Homo sapiens: one gene and its partners. The protein of the gene in region 6 purifies or fractionates together with the protein of the main gene of each other region. This does not show direct contact. Each region holds a gene or a part of one and is shown on either strand. Other genes may lie near its edges.

What was found.
Region 1: the proteins of TAS2R19 (region 6) and ABCB1 purify together in Homo sapiens (affinity purification with mass spectrometry; one large-scale study listed by BioGRID and IntAct). This does not show direct contact.
Region 2: the proteins of TAS2R19 (region 6) and PAG1 purify together in Homo sapiens (affinity purification with mass spectrometry; one large-scale study listed by BioGRID and IntAct). This does not show direct contact.
Region 3: the proteins of TAS2R19 (region 6) and SERINC1 purify together in Homo sapiens (affinity purification with mass spectrometry; one large-scale study listed by BioGRID and IntAct). This does not show direct contact.
Region 4: the proteins of TAS2R19 (region 6) and TTYH3 purify together in Homo sapiens (affinity purification with mass spectrometry; one large-scale study listed by BioGRID and IntAct). This does not show direct contact.
Region 5: the proteins of TAS2R19 (region 6) and GAP43 purify together in Homo sapiens (affinity purification with mass spectrometry; one large-scale study listed by BioGRID and IntAct). This does not show direct contact.
Region 7: the proteins of TAS2R19 (region 6) and NDUFAF1 purify together in Homo sapiens (affinity purification with mass spectrometry; one large-scale study listed by BioGRID and IntAct). This does not show direct contact.

Annotation. Positions count from the first base shown.
Region 1 is NC_000007.14:87,517,385-87,520,884, forward strand, and holds part of ABCB1 (ATP-dependent translocase ABCB1), read right to left. Parts: intron 3,493-3,500; coding exon 3,392-3,492; intron 2,083-3,391; coding exon 1,942-2,082; intron 1-1,941. UniProt on the Homo sapiens protein: Translocates drugs and phospholipids across the membrane. Catalyzes the flop of phospholipids from the cytoplasmic to the exoplasmic leaflet of the apical membrane.
Region 2 is NC_000008.11:80,979,569-80,983,068, reverse strand, and holds part of PAG1 (phosphoprotein associated with glycosphingolipid-enriched microdomains 1), read left to right. Parts: intron 1-2,574; coding exon 2,575-2,634; intron 2,635-3,500. UniProt on the Homo sapiens protein: Negatively regulates TCR (T-cell antigen receptor)-mediated signaling in T-cells and FCER1 (high affinity immunoglobulin epsilon receptor)-mediated signaling in mast cells.
Region 3 is NC_000006.12:122,454,808-122,458,307, forward strand, and holds part of SERINC1 (serine incorporator 1), read right to left. Parts: intron 1,844-3,500; coding exon 1,674-1,843; intron 1-1,673.
Region 4 is NC_000007.14:2,655,986-2,659,485, forward strand, and holds part of TTYH3 (protein tweety homolog 3), read left to right. Parts: intron 1-106; coding exon 107-199; intron 200-412; coding exon 413-549; intron 550-2,300; coding exon 2,301-2,474; intron 2,475-2,954; coding exon 2,955-3,030; intron 3,031-3,500. UniProt on the Homo sapiens protein: Calcium-independent, swelling-dependent volume-regulated anion channel (VRAC-swell) which plays a pivotal role in the process of regulatory volume decrease (RVD) in the brain through the efflux of anions like chloride and organic osmolytes like glutamate.
Region 5 is NC_000003.12:115,679,010-115,682,509, reverse strand, and holds part of GAP43 (neuromodulin), read right to left. Parts: intron 1-3,500. UniProt on the Homo sapiens protein: This protein is associated with nerve growth. It is a major component of the motile 'growth cones' that form the tips of elongating axons. Plays a role in axonal and dendritic filopodia induction.
Region 6 is NC_000012.12:11,021,119-11,023,857, forward strand, and holds TAS2R19 (taste receptor type 2 member 19), read right to left. Parts: upstream 1,503-2,739; 5' UTR 1,454-1,502; coding exon 554-1,453; 3' UTR 501-553; downstream 1-500. UniProt on the Homo sapiens protein: Receptor that may play a role in the perception of bitterness and is gustducin-linked. May play a role in sensing the chemical composition of the gastrointestinal content.
Region 7 is NC_000015.10:41,386,853-41,389,674, forward strand, and holds the end of NDUFAF1 (complex I intermediate-associated protein 30, mitochondrial precursor), read right to left. Parts: intron 1,671-2,822; coding exon 1,596-1,670; intron 742-1,595; coding exon 592-741; 3' UTR 501-591; downstream 1-500. UniProt on the Homo sapiens protein: As part of the MCIA complex, involved in the assembly of the mitochondrial complex I.

The DNA of each region.
Region 1 (3,500 bases), on a different chromosome or scaffold from region 6:
TTCTGCCACTGTCTCAAACCCAGGATAGCCTGCTGGAGGATGAGGCACACATGGAGGAGAGCTGTCTGAATCCCAACCAACCAGCTACAGACACAATCCACTACAGACACATGAGTAAGTCCAGCCGAGATCCACTATGCCTAATCCAGATCAGTAGAACTTCACAGCTAACCCATAGGTTTGTGGGCAAAAATATGTATGTCTCTGAGGTTTAGTGGCTGGTTGTTACACAGCATTATTGTGGTAATCAACAACGGATACAGTCAGTGATGTTGGAATTACATCAGATTCTTAAAAACCTATGAATTGTGCAACCAAAAGAAAGTTTCTTACAGAGCCAGATATCATGTTGCTCTTAAGATGCATTGACGTTCTTATCTATGACATGGGAATCACAGCAACTTAAAGTTGGGAAGGACCTTACAGGTATCAAGTCCAGCTCTCCATGTTCGTGCCTGGACACCTCCCCTAAATTGGCTTCCATCCTCTGTTTTAGGAAGTAGCATGTTTGATTGTCTATTGTTAAACAGTTCTTTTTCAAACTGAAGAAAAAATTTACTTCCTTTTACATAAGACAGGCCTACAAGTCTTGAAATATTGCTAAAAACTCCTTTGCTTCTTTGATAACTCCTTTCACTGCCCTTCTCTAGACACATTTATTAATATGCTTTTTTTAAACACAAGCCTGGAACAGACATAATACTTGGGAACCCGCCCAGAATACAGGGAATTCATCGCTTTCTTTCCTCTGGACTCTATGCCTATGTTTGTGTAGCATATTGTGTCATTAGTTTTTGTTTGTTTGTTTGTTTAACTAGCACTAAATAAAATACCGATAGTTAATCTTGGACTTGTGATCATTTAAACCTATGGGACCTTTTTCTAATGCACTGTTCTTCAGACAGGTCTTCCTTTTCCTTAACTTGGAAGGTTGATTTTGCAAACCTAAATGCCCCAATGTCAGCAACTTTCATCAATTCAATTTTTTGGAGTAAAGCAATATATCAAATAATTATCTAATCAAAGCCCCAATGCCAGTGATACTTGGTTTTGATCTCTAGGCCATAATCACAAATAGCACCTGCATATCATTTGTCCAATGTACATCTTTAATGGAAATTTAGATGTCTTTTTGGGGGTCATCCTGAGCAAACTGTAATGCATGAACAACTCAATGTTTAAAAAGGACAGAAATACTATACTAACACATTATACTGCCAGGCTTATATGATTCTGGTTTAAATATAAAATTATATCGCTACTAATTATGTTATGCTATCAAGAGGCAGAATCTTACCCACCTCCAAATCTAGAAGCTCAGAAAGATTACACATACTTTTGACCACCAAATTGCATATTTGGGTACTTTTGTAGTATAATTGCTTCAGGCTTATCTTCCTCTGACCGAGGTACAATTATCTACATTCAGAACAATGTAGCAGAAAAATCCCAATATAACTTTTCCTTTGTCATTTCTGAATTCATTTGGCTCTTACCTTCCAATTCCTCTCTTATCAAGGGAAAGTAAACATATCCTGGAATTGCCAAAGGCTTGCAGAACTTAGTACAACACATCTGTATTTTACTTGCTCTGTAAGAAAGTCCTTTAAAAGGAGCCAGTCAGACTCCTTGCTCAGGGCTAGGCTTCTTCCCAAATGCCAAGGCCTTCTCAAAATCTCCGAATGGAATCACTCCACTCAGTCACAGATTTGAAAAGGTCAACTATGTGTGAGCCAGCAATGAGGAAAGAAGTTACTGCTCCTCCAAATGAAAGGGGGTGCTTCAATGGTGGCACATGAAGACTCAGAGGCAGAAATGCCGATTTAGGAATCACCAGAATCTCTTCATGAGGCTTCACAGTAGGGTTTCCTATCTAGACATGAAGCATGTTCATCCCAGCTTTATTTTTAGAGCTTAACTAAATAATAGCCCAATACTTACAACAGAACATCCTCAAAGCTCATGAGTTTATGTGCCACCAAGTAGGCTCCAAACCGGAAACATCCAGCATAGGAAAAATACATCATTGCCTGGGTGAAGGAAAATGTAATTCCAAAGATGTGTGCTTTCCTCAAAGAGTTTCTGAAAAGAAGACATTTGAAAACTCATTCCACTTTCATTTCTCAGTCCTTAAAATGTAACTTTTGATAGGTTGGCAGTAGGGCACAGAGGCATGACCAACAAAAATGGGTTTCGTTTCCAAAGAACTAAGTTTGGTCCTCACTTTACACTTAACAGTTGTGCAAATTTGGGAAACTGCCTAACCTCTGAGACTCAGTGTCTTTATCTTTAATGTAGAATTAACTACACCTCAAAGTGTTGATGTAAAGAGAAAATAATCCAATGACTGTAAAGAGCCGGTTAGGGATCAATAAGTAAAAGTTATCTCCCTTTCTCCCCACTTTTGGACACACAGTATGGAAGTACTCTACGTAAATATTCATTCTGCACACAGTTACCCAACACCTACAAGGTGCAGGGGCCATGATGGGTTGACATAGAGGAAACAGGCATGTTCTTGACTTAGGAGACCTGACTTGAGTTGAATTACTATTTATGCATTAGAGGTGCCTTATGAATAATCTGTTATAGGAAGAAAGGAGAAGCACTAAATTCTTCGGGGGTCTCAGAGAAGGCTTTAAAAAGGGGTTGACATTCTAGAATCATGATATGGATCCAGCTCAGTGATATGGAGGTGTGGGTGGGGGCAGGTTAGCAAGTGGGCAGCCCTGGGCTTCCAACCCCTCCTGCTACCAGATCAACTCTGCTTTTACCTTCATCACATATGAAGATTTCAAATAATTTTTTTTTAGACAAAAAGGCTCTACCATCATTTTTTTTAAATAAAAGCTTAAAAATCCATCAATAAAGTCCAGCTTTCCTTTTATTATAAGAAACAGACTCAGAAAGGTTGGGCTTGCTTATGTTCACACCACTTATTAGAGCCCTCACTGGGATGACTGTATTAAAGGAAGAAGGTCTGCACTGGAGAAGGGGTAAAAAGCAGAAAGACAGGTAAACCCAGGAAGCACCATCCTCTCTGTGTCCCACAGGTACCTCAAATTTCAGGTTCCATAAATAACTCATTTTCAACTAGAGCAAATTATAGGGTCATATCCTACCTGGACATCAGATAGTCATTCTCAGCATCATGTCTCCCTCCCTTCTCATCAGTGACCCATTCTTACAGGTTCTACCTCAGAGATGTCCCTGCCTTAGTTCAGGGTCTTGTACTTTCTCTCCTGCATAATTACAACTGTTTCTCAATGGTTTACCTTCGAGCACTTTCTCCACTTGCTCCCTACCTTCTAGCCAAAGTAATCCCTCTGAAAACAAATATGATGATTGAAAAATTATTCACACTCTCCTCCCACTCTTCAGCGGTTATTACCTGTATGGTACCTGCAAACTCTGAGCATACATATGTTCAAACTTCTGCTCCTGAGTCAAAGAAACAACGGTTCGGAAGTTTTCTATTGCTTCAGTAGCGATCTGTAACA
Region 2 (3,500 bases), on a different chromosome or scaffold from region 6:
ATGGCCTTGGCTTATAGTCTGAACACTAATAATGTCACTAGAGTCCCGAGCAGCAGAATGGCACAACCTAGCCTATGTTTTCAAAGGATCCCTCTGACTCCAGTTTTGAAATAAAGGGTAGAAGTGAGGAGAACAATTGGGTAGTGACTCTAATAAACCAGATTAGAAATGGCGGTGGCCTGGATCAGGGAAGAGGCAGCAGAGGTGATGAGAAAAGCTAAGCCAGAGCCAAGAGATTTGCGGATGGATCCTACGCTTAGTGAGATAAAGAAGAGGCAGTGATGAGTACGAGGCTGGGCCCAACATGTGGGAAAGATTGAATTGCCATTAACTGAAATGAAGAGGATACAGGCAGAGCAGGTTTTGGGGGGAGAACCAGCAGTCAGTGTTGGGTACGTTCAACTTGAGATACCGATTGGACTTCCAAGTAGAGCTTATCAGATGGTAGCTGGATTGATGAGCCGGGTAAAGAGGAAAGGCCAGGGCTGGATTTGCTGATGTGGGAGTCATCCACAGAATGTGGTTTTAAAAGTCATGAGATTGGGTGAGGTCACAGGATAGGTGAGTGTAAATAGAGCCTGGAAGAGCTCCAAGAATAGAGATCTGGAAAAGGAACCAGCAGAAGAGACCAAAGTAGGAAACAAAAACAGGAAAGTTGTGGAGTCCTGGAAGGCAGTGAAGAACGTGTCCAGGAAGGAAGGAGTGGCGGGCCGCTCTGCCAAATGCAGCGGGTAGGTCAGGGAAGGCGAGTCTCATTGGTGCCCTTGACAAGAGCAGTCTCTGTGGAATGGTAGAGGCAGAAACATGACTGAAATGGATTAGAAAGAGAATAGGAAGAGAAAAATTGTTCGGTTGACTTTTTAGACCACTCTTTAAAAGATTTTGCTATAAAGAAGTGAGACAGGCTGGGCGCAGTGACTCATGCCTGTAATCGTAACACTTTGGGAGGCCGAGGTGGGTGGATCACTTGAAACCAGGTGTTTGAAACCAGCCTGGGCAATGTAGCAGCACCCCGTCTCTACAAAAAATACAAAAATTAACTGGGCATGGTGGTATGCACCTGTAGTCCCAGCTACTTGGGAGGCTGAGGTGGGACAATGGCTTGAGCCTGGGAGGTCAAGGCTGCAGTGAGCCAAGATCACGCCACTGCATCCCAGCCTGAATGGCAGAGTGAGACGCTGTCAAAAAAAAAAAAAAAAAAAAAAAGGAAGTGAGATAATGAGTAGGTAGAATTTCGGAGTAGGACTAGGTTTGTTTTGGTTTTAGAATGAGAGAAACAACAGCATGTTTGCATGTGGCTGGGAATGATCCCACACTGGGAGAATTCCTGGCTCAGTATTCACACATAGGTATGTGGAGACAGGGTCTAGTGTGTAGGAAGGAGGGGATCACCTGAAGGAGGAACATGGAAAATCCATTTGACAGGGAGGAAAGAAAATAGATTAACGCAGAGGCTGAGGGTGGGGCTAAGAGTTGATACAAATTTCTTCTGATTCCTTCAGTTTTCTTAGCCAACTAGGAAGCAAGATCATCTGCTCAGAGTGAAGATAGGTGAGGAGGTGTTGGAAGTCTGGGGAGAAGAGGAGAAGATGCAAAGTAGACTGTGAGTTGAGCAGAGACTGAGTATACTGGGGAAGCATCGGATGATACGGAGCGGCTTTAAGGGCTCACTAGAGGGTTGAGTTCACGTATGATTGGCAGTTGACTATGGAGCTTAAGCTTAGTAAAGCAGTACAGGACACCAAGGAGAAGGGCAGACTTTGAAAGCATGAATGGGTCCCAATGGTGTTGAAGGAGCATTGGAACTGGGTTACAGAAGGAGTGAGCTTTGACAACGAGCGCTGGTCTGAAAGGGGTTGCAAGGACTTGGGCTGGTGGAGAGGCTGTGGTTTAGAAAGGCCTGGGGTGCAGCCATGAGGGTGCTGAGGCCGGGGGTGGACATGGAGAGGGGACACAGATAGAGCATAAAATCAGTGGGGGAAGGGAAAGTCAAGGAACTGAAGGGCGGGATTTAGAAGGGTACACGTTTGTTGAGGTCACCAAAAATTAAGACAAGGGATGTGTTAGAGAATCAGTAAACCAAGAGCCAAAATCCTTCAGAAATCAGGCAGGGGGCAAGACACAAAATGTGAGTCAGTTTCTCCATTAGCTTTGAAGTTTCCAAATGACTTAAGGATCTTTCTGATGACGCCAGCAAACTGTAGAAGTATAAAATTCAGGCATTTGATAAAGAAACACCATGTTTTTAAATATTAATCCTCCATGGATGATCAATCCTTCAGTGACAATTAGGAATTGAAACAGTAGTCTAAATAATTATTTTGGCTTCTTTGTACCTACAGATGCAAATACAAAATTAGAGGAAATTTCTCTAAGGATAATACTACTAGATATCCCCGAACATCATACATGTGGTAATAGATTGCATAAGTGTTTCTCTTCCCATAATTTCTTCGTGGTTCCATAAAAATCATTTGAAAACGTTGCTAGACAGATTATGAGGAAACATGTGCAAAAGAAAGGTTAGATTGTTAACGCTGAATTACTTTCCTTGGCTTGTGTTTGTTCTGACAGAGATTTAGCTCATTGTCATACAAGTCTCGGGAAGAAGACCCCACTCTCACAGAAGAAGAGGTAAGTTTTGTTTCTTTTTAAAAAGGGAAAACTGTAGTAAAGAATAGACCTTCCCCCCTTGAATAAATGCACTGTAATGTTACCCTTTGAAAGAGCTGAAATATTCTCCTATGCCTATGTTTGGAGATGAAGACTTGGGATGCTGGTTTTATAATGGCTTGGAGAGACTGACGGGCAGGCCAGACAAGAAGGATGGCAGGACAAGTAGTCAGCTCAGGAAAAGAAACTGAGCAGGAAAGCAGGGTCAGGAAAAATAGAGAGGGCAGGGGAGAAGAGTGAGAAGAGAAAAATTCCAGCGTGGGAGCAGTCAGCAGTCAGGAAGACCACATCAGAAGGAAATGAATCATGGGTTGGAAAATTCAGGAAATTAGAACAGGTGAGTGTAGGGAATTTGCTCCAGCCTGGGAGACAGAAAGAGGAAGTCTCCGTGGGGAAATTTGGATGCTGAGAGCAGATTAACTTCAGTAAGTACAGTTCCAGGCAGGAGCTAGGGTCAGACATAGCAGCCAACAAGAGCAGATCGCATATTCCCAAGCACCAGGGTGCAAAATTCACGAGTTAGATTTTCAATGAAGCATTAAAATTGTTAAAGCCAGTATTATACATATAATATGAAATATGTGTATATATACATATTTCATATGTATATATATAAATGTTGAGCTATGCTCAGAGAGCTAAACACCTTAATTGATCTAGCTGTATATAGCTTCTATCTGGAATTCCTAGCAGAGTAAATTGTGTACATGTACAAGAGCAAAGTACATATGCAGGTACATCACTTCCTATAGGACTCTGAGTAAAGCATTAGAATATGGACATAGACACCCACGTTGAATGTTCAAAGAGCAAAAATGCTTTCCCTA
Region 3 (3,500 bases), on a different chromosome or scaffold from region 6:
GCAGTCATCAATACCAGCTATGACCACATGTCCAGCTGCAGAAACGAGGGCTGTAATTGTTGTGAGTACTTCCTCCTTGTTTTGTCAAAAACATGTTCATGCATGCATATACTTGTACTAAGAAAATATCTTCATTTTATTTCCATTCTCCTTTATCATGTGACATAAGATTTACTGACTTCACATCAGCATTTAAGTATTGTTAACTTTATGTAATTAGTATTTTGGTTGGGGACTGGTGCGTTTTCAGTTGTAAGGTTAGTTGTATGACCTTATTATTGTCTTTATTTGCAGATTATGTATGATCTCAGGAGATGTATACGGGTTCAAGTTGACAATGGGTAGACTTCTGATAGTTATACTGAGTGTCAATTGAATTCAAGGATGCAAAGTACTGACTTGTAATGGTTAATACTGAGTGTCAACTTGATTGGATTGAAGGGTGCAAAGTACTGATGCTGGGTGTGTCTGTGAGGGTGTTGCCAAAGAAGATTAACATTTCAGTCAGTGGGCTGGGAAAGGCAGACACACCCTTAATCTGGGTGGGCACCATCTAATCAGCTGCCAGCAGGGCTAGAATATAAAGCAGGCAAAAAAAAAAAGTGAAAAGACTAGACTGGCCTAGCATCCCAGCCTACATCTTTCTCCTGTGCTGGATGCTCCCTGCCCTTGAACATCAGGCTCCAAGTTCTTCAGTTTTGGGACTAGGACTGGCTCTCCTTGCTCCTCAGCTTGCAGATGGCCTATTGTGGGACCTTGAGATCATGTGAGATAATACTTAATAAACTCCCCTTTATATATATCTATCTATCCTATTAGTTCTGTCCCTCTAGAGAACCCTAATACACTTGATTATCAGAAAAAACAACAATTACATAAACTGCTTTTAAGACCATTTTGAGAAAGATGTATTTCTCACTAATTCATTATGGAAAAATGAGAATGTTAGTTCCATTTCACAGGCTTATTTCACATAAGTGGGATAATGTATCAAAGTATAAGGTGAACTGTATAAATGAATAGTTTTTATAAACACATGATAAATGCCTCCATCTAAAACTCTAATAATTTAATAAAATAATCAATGACCAAAGGAACAAAATAAAGGAAAAGCAACCCGTCACATATTTTCTCATTAATATTTATATTCTACTTGTTTATACTTTTTGTCTTTGGTAGCACATATAACTAGATAAGCAACAGCAGATATTAAAACAGTCAAATAAGGGTACCAGAAGTAGTGCTCTATATGAAGGAAGATTGATAAAAGAAACCCTGAAGTTTCTTTCTGGGTTGTCCAATACAACCAACCTAGAAAAATCTGCTCTCTGGGTCTAGGGAACTGAGAGTTCTATGTAAGTGGACTGGTCCACCTAAAGTTAACAGTAGAAGGAGAAATAGCTATTCCCTTAGTAGTCACAAATATAATAGAGCCTCTTTTTTAGTATGAAAATATAAAACACTGTGGATCAGAGGTTATCACAGCTATTATTTAATATCCAAAGTCTGACATTCTCCAGTAAAAACAAGATTTTCTTATCCTGTCATTCATGAATAAAGTAATTCTGCAAATTGTATAAGTTTATTTTACCTTAAAGTTTCCTTGGATAAACTGGCAATTATCAAGAAGAGGCTACCCAAGCTTTTATATTGAAGCTTATTTAAAAACTTACCCATTGTGCACTGCAGCTCTAGGATCACTGCTACTCTTCACTTTGATCATTAGTAAAGAGAGAAGAAGATAGAACATAGCCAAACCAAAGCACAAACGATATACAGCTTTATAGCCAACCAAAATGTTACAAGGGACAACACCTTTCTCATTCTCACAAAATCCAGGAATCTAGAAAAACAAAAGAGTTTATGATCCATCATTTTTTTTCATTAAGTAAAAATAAAAATTACATGTAATCAAATAGTTTAAGTAAAGGTTTAGAAAACTGGCATTTGCTTTACAATTTATGATGAATATGTACTCAAGATGAGTCTGATACATTTTAATCACATACAGTGGGGAAAAAAGAGTTAAATCCCCATCTGCGCAAATCATAAACTACAATACCAACTCTATGCTGGTTGCTTATTTTGAGTTATAGATTTATCCTACATTTTAAAAACTTGCATTCTACTTGAATAGCACGATAGACTTGTTTTAGTAGTGTAAGTGCTATTTCTGAGACTACTGTTCAGAACTATTAATACATCTATTATTCATATATATAAGAATAAATTATTTCCTCCCACTCTTTCCAGTCCCAGCACTCTAAAAAAACTGCTTTTCCAGGATACTAGTCATGTACTGGTTTCCAAACCCAAAGGCTACTGCTTAATCACATTCCTTAATCTCATTTTTATATAGACACTATCCCTGTCATTCTTAAAACTTTCTTCCTAGAACCTATACATTTTCTTTGTTCTTTTCTGTTATCCCTTCCCTCCCAGTTTTCTAGGATCAGAATCAGGTTTTCCTTTCTCCACTAACTCCCTTAAGTAAGAGATTTTGGCAGAGTTCTAGCTCTGCTCACTCTGAATGATCTTCAGCATACGCTGCCATGGTTTCAACATTCAATTTCTATCCTCAAGGCAGTCTCTAGCTCTGATTTCTCTTTTAAATTCCTTCATGTTTTCTACTTACTGCTGTATATTATTATGGACTTCGTGTTTGTGTCTACCCAAAATTAAATGCTGAAACTCTAACCCTCAATGGGAGGATAGTGGGAGATAGGGCCTTTATGTGGTAATTAAATCATGAGGGTAGAGCCCTCAGGATGGGATTAATGCCCTTATAAAAACAGACAGAAGAGAGCTGCTGCTTTCTTTCAAAAATGTAAGATGGCCATGTGTAAACCAGGAATAAGATCCTCATCAGAACTTGACCATGGTGGCACCCTGATCTCGGACTTTCAGCCTCCAAAACTGAGAAATAAATTTTTGTTGTCTTAAGCCACCCAGCCTATGATATTCTTGTTATAGCAGCCTGAACTGAGTAAGACATACATATATATATATATATATACATGTACACGATACAATACCACCAAGTCAACATGTTAGAAACTAAATTTATTATGTGTTCCCAATCTCCTTCCACAACCTGACTCTCTCTAAAAATTTTCCTTTCTAGGTTAATAGCAATACTTTCCTCCCGGTTTTGTAGGACCAGAACCTGGTTGTTATTTATGATTCCATATCACTGCCAATATTTCAGTGCTAGGCTCAGTCAATTTTACATCCAGAAAATCTTATTTCAGGTCCGCTATTCTCTTCTTGATTATACCACTGCAACAGCCTCCATATTTAACTGCTTGACTTTTATACTTTATTAATTGTAAGATTAATCTTCCTAAAGTATAGATACTTTGCTTGAAAAGCTCTTTTATACTCATTATGCTTTCTATTTTTCAATCTCTGTATATGCAAGTTCTAATCATTCTTAGAACATCCTTTTTTCCATGACCCATTGAGATTCTGACACCTGGTTAGAATTATACTTCTTTCTG
Region 4 (3,500 bases), on a different chromosome or scaffold from region 6:
GATTATGGGCTGGAGGGAGACCTGGGGGCTTCCCAGATGGGGCGAGGCTGGCTCGAGGTCCCCCGTCCAAATGAAGTGCTGACCATCTGCGGTGCGTGCCCCCCAGGACCCCCTCCTCCGCGTCCAGGAGGTGCTGAATGGCACGGAGGTGAACCTGCAGCACCTCACCGCCCTGGTGGACTGCCGCAGCCTGCATCTGGTGAGAGGCAGGGCCTGGGACAGGGCCATGGCAGCTTGTAGGGTGGGAACAGGGGAGCAGCTGTTCGGGAGGATGGGGACCCTCAGCAGACAGTGGGTCCTCAGCCCTGCCTCTGGGGGGCGGTCCAGGCCGCCGTGGCTGGGCTGAAGGTCTCACGCTGCCCCCTCCACCCTCCCTGTCTCTGGATCCTGCCATCTCATCCCACGGCCTCAGGACTACGTGCAAGCGCTGACCGGCTTCTGCTATGACGGCGTGGAGGGCCTCATCTACCTGGCCCTCTTCTCCTTCGTCACAGCCCTCATGTTCAGCTCCATCGTCTGCAGCGTCCCGCACACCTGGCAGCAAAAGAGGTGAGGGGCCCTGGGGGGTCGCAGGAGCTTGCCCCAGGCCACATGGCATGCGGGACACTTCAGGGGCATGCCTTTATGGACACCCATGTGCCAGTCCCAGAGGTGAGGGACAGACACCTCCTCACCTCGTGACCCTCCCTAGGCCTCTCTAGTGTCTCTGAGGCTGCCGGTTCCCAGGTGAGCATCATCATTTCACAGGAGGAAAACAGCCTGGAGGAGCTCCCGGCCTGGGTTGCAGGAGTCCAGAGCAGACAGTGGGGAGGACTGGGGTCTCTTGCCTCCCCAGACTGGCTCTGTGCCCTATGCCCTGAGAGCTGGCCTCAGACTGTCTACTCTGTACCGCCTCCCAGGCAGGTGTCCCCCACCATGGGGTGCAGGTGCACGACGCTGTGGGGGAAAGGTTGGTGGTCCACTGTGCAGGCTTAGCTCTGCCAGGGGTAGTCCAGGTAGCTGTGGCCTCCAGCTAAGTGACCAGGATAGAAGCCAGCTCCCCTGGAGCCACTATGTCCTTACCTTTGAAGTGGGGGTCCTGGTGGCCCCTGCCTGAGTCTTCCCATTCAGTACTGGTTTGAGTGGTGTATTGGGGTGACAGGCTCCTTCCCTTGCCAGAGCTCCTATGGCTTATCTTTGAGACCTTCACCTCCTCTCCCACTTGGACTGTGGCTGCTGCTTGGTGGCCCAATATGGATGGCAGGTAGCTCAGCTCAGATTTCTTCCTTTTGTCTGGATTTCTATTATTTTCCTTTGTGATGGTGATGGTGATGCTGCCAACGATGATGGTGATGGTGATGGTGGTAATGATGGTGATGGTGATGGTGGTGATGATGGTGATGGTGGTGGTGATGGTGATGATGGTGATGATGGTGGTGGTGGTTGTGGTGGTGGTGATGGTGATGGTGATGGTGATGTCATTGTTGATGTTGGTGATGGTGATGGCATTGGTGATGTCGGTGATGGTGGTGGTGATGGTGTCAGTGGTAACAAAGATGGTAGACATAGGGGAGTAGATAAGAGCATAGCCCTGGACCCACAGGGCTAGATTCAGATTCTGTCTCTATCCTTGCTTATTGTATGATGTGGGCAAGTCACTTAACCACCCTGGGCCTCAATTTCCCTCATTGTAAGAGGACACAGCTGGAGTGTCGAGTGGGCACTTGAGCCACTGCACGTGAGGGGCTTGGCTGGTGGCCCCTGCGCAGCCAAAAGCTACCACTGTCCTGTTTCTGAAGTGCTTGCTGCCAGGCAGCCCACCCTGTGTCCCATGTGGGACCTCCTGGGGCGTGGAGGCTCCAAAGTGCCAGAGGCTCGCGCAGAGTGGAAGACAGAAAGCCAGAGGGCAGCAGGGCTAGGAAAACTGGCTCAGGCCACCCAAGGGTGCAGTTGGATCCTGCAGAGCCAAGAGGCACCCCAGCCTCCTGTGCCTTCAAGAGGCACCCTGGCCTCCTGCACTCTCCCAGGAGGGGCCCTGCACTCTTCTTTCAGTAAGCAGCCAGCCAGCCTTGCCATGCACAGGCCGCAGTACAGGGCCTGGCACTCGGGTGACCACACAGGTCTCATAGCACCCCACCTCGCAAGGGCAGGGCTGGATGCAGAGCCAGGTGACCTGCCCACAGTCCCACATGGAGTGTGCACACGGCCGAGCCAGAACTGGAACCAGGAGTGTCTGTCTGCACCAGAACTGACCCCCATGGGTCTGTGGCCAGCTCCTTCCTGCTGGGGCCTGAGCCCGTGCTGCGTGTCCCTCCTCACAGAGGCCCTGATGAGGACGGGGAGGAGGAGGCCGCTCCAGGGCCGCGGCAGGCGCACGACAGCCTCTACCGCGTCCACATGCCCAGCCTGTACAGCTGTGGCAGCAGCTACGGCAGTGAGACCAGCATCCCGGCCGCGGCCCACACCGTCAGCAACGCCCCGGTCACTGAGTACATGTGAGTTGACGTGGGCCTAGTGGGGCCAGCGGACACGTCAGCTGCGGCTGAGAGCGCGGATCTGGGCTGGGGCTAGCTCGAGGCAAGGGGCTGGAGAAGGGGCGGCCTCCGGGCTGGGCAGCCCTGGCCTTGAGTGCCTCCTGCCCCAGGTGAACACGGTCCAGGGGCCATGGAGAGGCCACATGGTCACATGGAGGTTCCGTGTCCAGGGCACAAGGACTCTGTGGCCAAGGACCTCAGGGCCCAGCTACATGGTGAACAGGTGGCTCGGAGGGAGTGGACTCTGGCTGGGCCAAGGTGGGCAGGGGTCTCTCTGTGGGCCCTCTCTGAGCCCTTTGTTACTGTGCTGGGTTCGTGGGACCCCCAGTGAGAATGGATGTGCCCATCTGGGCACAGCGGGCCTACCCATGGGCCCCCCGACCTGCAGCTGGGACTGCATGGCCAGCAGGCACTCACAGCCTCTCTCCCCTCATGCCTCAGGAGCCAGAACGCTAATTTCCAGAACCCCCGCTGTGAGAACACCCCACTCATTGGGCGCGAGTCCCCGCCGCCCTCAGTAAGTCTTGGGGCAGGAGGGTGGATGGGGGGCTGCTCAGCCTTGGGGGTCCGCTGTTCCACTGCGTCGGTGGGCTGGTGTGGCATGTGCAGCCAGTGTGAGCTCTGGGGGCAGCTGTGAGCTGCCACCACCGGGGTCCCAGGTGACCCTTCCCAGCTGGGACCTCTCTGCAGGACGCCTGACCTGAGTTGACGGGGCTGGGTGGGACTGCCAGCTCCTCCCCGCTGGCCTTGGAGTGTCCTGGGGCCAGAGTGGGCAGCCTCGGGACCAGCCGCCCAGGGGGTCAGCTCTCAGGCCCTTTCCTGGGGAAGGAGAGTGGGTGGGCGGGCAGATGTGGCCCCACTGTGGCCCTCCCAGCTTGTAGGCACGGCCCTGCACCAGGCCCTCCCTGGCCTCTTACCTGCCATTCTCTGTGCCTTCTGGACCTGTGGGGTGCCACCGCTCCAGTTCCCAGGGGCCCCGGCCCTGCC
Region 5 (3,500 bases), on a different chromosome or scaffold from region 6:
TTCTTTAATATTTTAGTTATAAAGGTACCAGATCCTTTGGAAATGCACTTGCCAAAGGGGGGTAGACCTAAGCAAGAATATAAAAAAGATACTGATTCTGATAAGCTAAACTTAGGGTAGCAATTGCCTACAATAAATAAAATGACTTTCATCTGATTGAGATATGAAAATTTCCATTTCTAGTTTTCAGATCCTCCTGGCATAACTGATGTATTTGATGGAGTCAGTAATACATCTGTTAAGAACAATCATTTTCAGCTGATCTTTATAGCTCTCTCAGGTCTAATAAAACAGTACTTGGAGCATTTTTGAAATAAGAATCTAAGACTCAGAAACAGTTTAATATCCCTAATAATTCTGGGGTGATAGGGCTGTGAGGGAATTATGATCAGGAATTATAGTAGTTACTAGACACCCATCTGTAAATGCTATCCCTAATAATTCCCAGACAAGAGTCTGGAATATCCAATTATCCAAAGAAGAGAGATGTTCTTATATTATAACACATTGTTGGGGTCCTTAGACATTCCTCTCCTCTTTGTTTCTTCCAGAATAGCACTTGGATAAGTGTCAGGGTTCAGCATGTGACCTCTCAGACTCTCAGGGTTTGGCTTCTGGTTCAACATTGCTAGCTGTCAACAATGATTAAGTCCCATAGTCTCCCTAAAGCTAAGATTTCTCCTTGTAAAAAGGGAAGGGAAAATTACACTACTACATTACTACCACAGAGTGGTTATGATGATTAAATGGAACAATCCCCACATAGCACTCAGCACAGGACCTGGCAGTTAATAAATGCTCATTAAGTGCTACCTATTATTAGACTTTTATATGTTAACTCTTGAAAGAAAACCTTAAAAACCAACTATCGTAGTCCCTTTTCCTAAGGATGAGATGAATGAGGTCCAGAGAAGCAATAACTTGCCTAAAATCTGGTTGGTAGAAATACTGAGACTAGAACCCTGGTCTCTTTATTTCAGTTCAAAGATCTTTTCCCTGCATTATATTACAAGGCAGGTAGGACAGAGAATATCCTAGTAAGGTCCTGGTTGGTATTTCCCAAAAGCATCAGATCACAACAACAGCTAAGATAAAAAAGAAAATGCAGAAACTGAGACAAAACATAACACCTTAATAGAGAGAAAGAACTGTAGGGCTACAGTTAAGGTGAGGATTTAGAGTTCAATCAGTTTGATCCTCATTTTGTCACTGGCTGTATTTGTGGCCAGAATATCCATTTACTTTGTCCCTATTCTTGGAATATAAAAATAGAAAGAAAAATATTATCAAATGACATTGGGCTGTTGTCAAGAAAAGCCAATAAAAATGATTACTCTAGCAATATAAAAGTGCTCCATAAAAGCTTAATAATCAACAGTATTTAAGAGGTATACCACTGAGTATCTGACAGGGTGCCCATGTTTTATAAACAGCATTTATGGACTTCCACAACCAAAATTTTCATTCTTTGTGAGTTGTGTATAAATTTAGGAAGTGGTTGAAACCACATTTCAAATCAAAGCCGCTCACGAGGCACCCTGCCAAATAAGTGTAAATATCCTTGGAAAATCTCACATCTAACACACAGCTTGGTAGAAGTGGACCTATCTTTTGGAAAGCTGAAAAATAGATGGTTACCTTGGGTCTTAGGGAAAATATTGTTCTGGGAAACATAAATAATTTTTTAAATTCAGAAATATGAGCTGGGTATTTCATTTTCTTATACACAATTATCATTCTAGAAATTCTAAATTTTGCATCTATTCTTTTCGTTAATAATTTGAGTATCAGGACATACATTATATGCAACGTTTTTATAGTAAGCAGCAGACTGCATCTTAGCCCCTGAAGCACTGCCTCATTCATATTTTGTCCAAAGTGCATTGGCATAGGGAAGTGCCCTGTACCTAACTGCAGAATTTAATTGAGATTATGAATATGATTGTTTTCAATGTCATTCCCTGAATTTCATACTACCCCCATACCAAGTAAGAATTCATTAAGGTCAAAAGAGTACATCTTGTTTTTGTTTTGGTTTGGTTTACTTTTTCTGAGACAGGGTCTCACTCTGTCACCCAGGCTGGAGTACAATGGCACACAATAATGGCTCACTGCAGCCTTGACCTCCCGGGCTCAGGTGATCTTCCTGCCTCAACCTCCAGAGTGGCTGGGACCTCAGGCACACACCACCACACTCTGCTAATTATTTATTATTTGTAGAGATGGGGTCTCCTTCTGTTGCCCAGGCTGGTCTCAAACTCCTGGACTCAAGTCCTCCTGCCTCGGTCTCCCAAAGTGCTGGGATTACAGGCATGAGCCACCGCACCTGGACAAAAAATCATATCTTATTCATCTTTGTGACTCCAATACCTAGCACAGAAGAAAGTTAATATAAAGGGAAGGGAAAAAGAAAGGAAGAATAGAAAAGAAGGAGACAGAATGGGAAGGAAGGAGGGAGGAAGGAAGGATAAAAAAGAGGAGGAAGAGAAGCAGGGAGACACTAAGTTAATTTTTCTATTCAGGGAATGGCAATAGGAAACTCCTCCCTCTTTTCTTGATCATTACTGATGGCATCAATTTGCAAGATGTACTGAGACCATGAAAATAAAATGCAGCCAAGATCAACATACAGAACATTTAAAGTCACTCAGAGCTACACTTCCAACTAGCATCAGTCAAAGACCCTGTGGCAGCCACCCAATCAATATCACTGATTGATAGCCCTCTGGATAGGTTACCTTGGTTGTACCACATCACTGAATATGACCACAGCAGAGTCCTCTACTGGGGAAAATCAATAGGCTACCATGGAGAAGAGGAGACGTAAGAGAGAATTCCTTCATTGAGAGCCAATGAGCACAGTGACACTGCTCAGCAGGAGACCCCAAGGATATAATCACTAAAGGGGGCTTCAAAGTTCTCTACTCATGACTGAATGGGGCAGTGTCCCACAGATGTTTTGAACACTCCTCTTCCTCTAAAGGAATCATTGTCAGAGGTGCGCTGAAATGTTTTGGTCCCAGGCACGTAAAAAGCTGGGCAGGCAGCGTGGCAAACTAGGGAGAGGTGGACATACTTGGAGAATTTAAAACAATGACAATAACCAACCAACTTCAAAGATCAAAATACAAATGACATCCCCCCATAACAAACAGGTTGGTAGTAAATAGTAAAAGAAGTAAAATAAATAACATTTATAGTTCCCCCAACATTTCCATAGGTATTAAAGTAATAATCATATCTAAAATTTTTAAGCCTGATATTCACAGAAATTATTTTCTTAGATTTTCTCTTTGTACCTATTTTTCCCCTTAACCCTGTTGCACCCTCTTAGATTGTCTGTCCACGCCCCTCCAGGCAGCTGTAGAATCCTAAAGCAACCCATGGTAGCCACCCATTTCCGAACAGTACAGCCCAGTGGAAGATGCTGCTACTTTAACCCAGGTTAAAATGAAATACAGTGGAAGGCAGAGGAAATGCAGTACAGGGCACCTGGGAAT
Region 6 (2,739 bases):
TTGTGTGCATCATTAACTAACAACAATTCTATTTGCTTTCTACTAAGCATAAAATAAGAATTCATAATGAAATAAAACCTACCCCAAAGATCCATTCTTATCATTGATTTAAAATTGAATGTCTTTACCATCCAAAAAATTAGAGGTTCACCAATGATAGTTAAGCACATATATGTGGTACAAATTACAATGGAAAAGAGAAATGATTTCTTCATAAAAGCTGTACGTTCTTAATTATAAAGAGAGATAATAAATTCTTCAAATGAAATACTATACAATGAACTATAATAAAATATAAATACTATATATGTGAAATATACTCAGCTTCATAATTTATGGTCAACGTTGTTATTCACACACATGCACACATATACACCCATAAATATATATATGACTTTTCTAGGTATCTGTTTTGAAATTACTCACATACAAACACTATGGAAAAACTGATAGAAATATAAAATGTTCCAGACACCATCAGTTTGTTTTCTGCTAGAAGACCCACGATGCTCCCCTTGTGAATCTATGGAGTTGAGGGTTTCTCTTCTTTCACTCAGCGTGTCATCTGCCACAAAACTGAAAGAAAGGTCTGTTTTAGCTTCCTACTTCCCATAATCAGGATGAATGAGTGGAATGAAGGATACATGATTGCAACAGTTTGGCAAAGCAGGAGTACAAGTTTGCTCTGCTGTGTCCTAAGATTCCAAGTTGATGTGATTATACACAGAAAGTAAATGGCAAATAACATGAGGAAGGAGGTCACAGTTTGCAAAGCTTTTATATGGACCTTGGTGCTGGGATCTTGAGATCCTTTGCTATGGAGCCGCATCTTCTTGAGATGTTTACAAAGAGAACAGATTAACAGCAGAAAACATATTAGGCTCAGAGTAAAGGGTATGAGGTTTGCTAGAGTAGTTACAGTCAAGCTTGAAAGGTGTATTGCATTCCTCAATTTGATCTTCCAAGTCACATTTCCTTCATATTCTTTTGTCCACACTCTCTCATCCATGGTTATCACAGCAAGATTACAAATCAGAAATACCAAGGGCCCCAACAGTATCACCAGAACAACACTCTTAATTCTCTTCTTTAGGTGGAGAGAAATAAGGTTGGAGAAATTGGCAATCTTGAGCAAACAAAATATGCTGAGGCTAGCAGCAAGCCACATGCTGAAATGGTTCGTTACAGCCCAGGCATTAGAAGCAACAATTCTTACTTCTAAACCATATAAAGCAGAATTAAACACAGTTGCATACCAAAGGAATAACATGACCCAGAGTAAACCAATTCTGGAGACCACCAGAGCAGTGAGAATTTGCTCAGCTGAGGAGATCTTTCGTGTGTTAACCCAGTCAATGACATTTACTAGGGCTATGAAGCCATTGGCAACATTTCCAAGAACAAATGCAAACACTACCAGAATTGATGAAATGATGAGCAGAAAACACATCATGTTTGAACAGATAAAAAAATGCAGGCTTAGTAACACTTGTTCTGAGTCCTTTAACATCCAGATGTTAACTTCGATGAACACTTGATTACTAAATGTGCAATAACATTTTCTGCCTTTAAATTCAGTGACTAGTGTCAACAGGCAAGCACCAGCATATGCTAATAGATGAATTCAAAACTGTCTTTATAGAAATAGAAAAGGTCATTATTCTCAAAACAGCTCAAATTCACTCCTCTTCATATACATTCTCTCCTTGCTATATGCTGTACTTTTTTATACTGAGGTTGAAGTGGAAAATGAATTCTCATGTGTTAGTATGCAAAGAAAGGCATATTATTTTTCATTGTTTTGCAATTTTTTTCCTTGTTTAACCTCTCCATAATTTGTATACAGCATCTTCAGTTGTTCCATAGGGAAATTGTAAAACCCAATACATATATCATATAGTAAATGTCTAAATTGTTAAAGGAGCTTGGTCATAACTAGGATCATACCAATATGGACTTATTTTTATGCCAGATTTAAATACCAGATTCTAAACCTTTTATCAAAATCATCCAAGATTATCTTGGAAATCCCTGGGAGGCTGATACACTTTAAAATCTGGTTTCTGATAACCAATAAATTGATATGACATCATTGTTAATAAGCTCCTAAACACATAGACACACATGCACTCACACCCTTAGGGCATGGAAGGAATTATTTTCTTATAATTCCCCAAATGGAAAATGAGTTTCCAGGAACTCATCCAGGTGGTATTAGTCTTATTTTCCAACTCAGGGCTGTCAGACAATGAATAATATTTATCAAACATGTTTCTCAAGCTTAGGCCTTTGGTATATTTACACTCAAGTCTGTTTTGTTTAAACATTAATTATTTAATTAAAATGTTCAGCAATTTTGTAAATATTTCTAAGTACCCTACTCTTTGTCACATAATCCTGCAGTACCCTCCCACCTCAGGCAGGGTGACTACCTTGACCTTGGACTCTGAATTCACTCACGTAATTTGCTTCAGTCAACAGGAAATTAGTAGAATTTACAGAGATTTAAGATGGCTTCCATATTGAAGTTTCCTGCTCTTTTCCACTAACCATGAGGACATCATCTGGCTAGCACACTGTTCCCAGAAGAAGAAAGAGAAACTAATGGAGTCAGAATGCCACTGCCTTATCTACCCTAAATCAGCCAAACTAGCGGCAAGATGCAGTACGTGGCCCATCTCCAATCACCAGAGCCATCCACCAAACCTAGGTTAGAAAAATGTAATCCAAAGACATAAT
Region 7 (2,822 bases), on a different chromosome or scaffold from region 6:
TTTTTAGTAGAGACGAGGTTTCACCATGCTGGTCAGGCTGGTCTCGAACTCCAGACCTTAAGTGATCCGCCCGTCTCAGCCTCCCAAAGTGCTGGGATTACAGGCGTGAGCCACAGTGCCTGGCCAGCAACAGCATTATAACTTGTCTTAGAGAATACATACTAGCCAGCCAGGCGCGGTGGCTCACATCTGTAATCCCAGCACTTTGGGAGGCCAAGGCGGGCGGATCACCTGAGGTCAGGAGTTCGAGACCAGCCTGACCAACATGGAGAAACCCTGTCTCTACTAAAAATACAAAATTAGCTGGGCATGATGGTGCATGCCTATAATCCCAGCTACTCGGGAAGCTGAGGCAGGAGAATAGCTTGAACCCAGAAGGCGAAGGTTACGGTGAGCCGAGATCACGCTACTGCACGCCAGCATGCCAGCCTGGGCGACAGAGCAGAACTCCATCTCAAAAAAAAAAAAAAAAAAGAGAGAGAATACATACTAGCCATTGGTTGGATGCCATTAAAGAAATATTTTATTTTGTCTATATCATTGTAGATGCTAGTACCCTTAGATTAGTAAAACAAAACTACCATATGATCTTTATTTAAAAAGCCTTGGGTTAAGCTCTGGAGAATTTTCATAGGCAAATTCTTCTGTATGAGCTGGATCAGTAAACACGCCAATAAAATCTATCTCCAGGAAGAATGGACCATCCACTTTATCAGCCAAGGTGAATCCTATAGAAGAGATCTAAATTTAAAATACAGAAATTGATTAAAATCTCATACAGTGACGTACTGAGATTATTCCAGGAGTTTAAAATCCCATCAGGTGATGATTATAACTGGGTTTTAATGCTATCAGCCCTTAGCAAATACTACTAATTCTCCCATAGCATACTGTAAGAGGAAATACAAGACTGCTTTTCTTTCCTCATTCAACTTCCTCCCCTCTCCTCATTAGGTAGTGCCACTTAAGACTAGGAAGGACGGCCGGGCGTCGTGGCTCAGGCCTGTAATCCCAACACTGGGAGGCCAAGGTGGGCAGATCACAAGGTCCAGTTAAAAACCAGCCTGCCCAATATGGTAAAACCTCGTCTCTACTAAGAATACAAAGATTAGCCAAGTGTGGTGGCAGGCACCTGTAATTCCAGCTACTCAGGAGACTGAGGCAGGAGAAATGCTTGAACCCGGGAGGTAGAGGTTGCAGTGAGCCGAGATCATGCCACTGCACTCCAGCCTGAGTGACAAAGCAAGACTCCATGTCAAAAAACAAAAAGACTAGTAAGGACGACATGAATGCCTAATGGAGTTCCTTGAAGCGTTCATAAACTCTTATTTTAAAGCTAAATTAGGAGAGAAGGGAGGGGGGAAAATAGCTAAAGTAAAATGTAGGCATGCTAAAAAATGATCCTTCTAAAATTCCTTCAGGATGGGGGTATGGTTCATAGGAGAGGTCTAAGTCAGCCTCTGGCTGGGTATAAGAGCAGTGGCCCTGAGAAGAAATATTCATCTGCCAGCCTTCTCAAATGAACTCAGTCTCCCCAGAGTTCCGATTCATTAAAAATGATACAGTTCTGAGTGAAAAATACAGGAATATGTTACCTTATCAAGCGGAAGCTCATGCTGAACATCCCGGATTCTTCCTCGATTAGAGAAGAAAAATTTGGAAAAAGGAATCTGAAAGAAGAAACCATTTACTTCATAACTGAAATGTAAGCAATTGAGGCATCTGCATGTAATTGTAACGATAAAATGAGTTTACATTTATTCTAAAATTATGTCATATATGTATTATGACAAATGGCTAGCCATTTGGATCAAAGATATAACTCAGGCCAAACGATAAAGGGTTAACTATGAAAAAAATATTTGTAACATTTATGGAAAAAAGACTAGTATCCTAAACACAGCTTTTTTTTTTTTTTCTTTCTGTGGAGAATGGGGTCTCACTTTGTTGCCTGAACCCGGGAGGTAGAGGTTGCAGTAAGCCAAGATCACACCACTGCACTTCAGCCTGGGCGATAGAGCTAGATTCTATCTCAGAAAAAAAAGAAAAAAGAATTTTAACGTTTCCCTTCCTTCCTACATTAGAAACTGAACTAAAAGAAATGTCCTATTCCTTCTACTCTTGAACTTTCAAGTGTGCCTTTTTATTCATCAACTTTATTTTCATATTTCTTCTCTATGTAATTTACTTATTATTAAGCACGATCTTTTAAAACTATATCTGGCTTTAATTGTTTGTGTTTTGTTTTGAGATAGGGTCTCACTCTGTTACCCAGGCTGGAGTGCAGTGGTGCCATCTTGGCTCACTGCAACTTCCACCTCCCAGGTTCAAGCGATTCTCCCACCTCAGCTTCCTGAGTAGCTGGGACTATAGGCGCACACCACCACACCCGGCTAATTTTTTTTTTTTTTTTTTTTTTGGTAGAGACGGTGTTTCACCATGTTAGCCAGGCTGGTCTTAAACTCCTGAGCTCAAGTAATCTGCCAACCTTGGCCTACAGGTATGAACCACCACACCCTGCCTAAATAATTATACAGAAGCTCTCCAGGATATATTCCTAAATTTTAAAAACACAAAAAACAGGTACAGAGTATGCTAATTTTATTTATATTTTGAGTTTAACAAAGGAAGAAAATGGCTGGGCCTGGTTGTGCATGCCTGTAATCCCAGCACTTTGGGAGGCCAACACAATAGGATCAACTGAGCCCAGGAGTTCAAGACCAGCCTGGGAAACACGGTGAAACCAAGACTCTAGTAAAAAAACAAAAAACTTATCCAGCCATGGTGGTGCATCCTTGTAGTCCTGGCTATTCAGGAGGCTA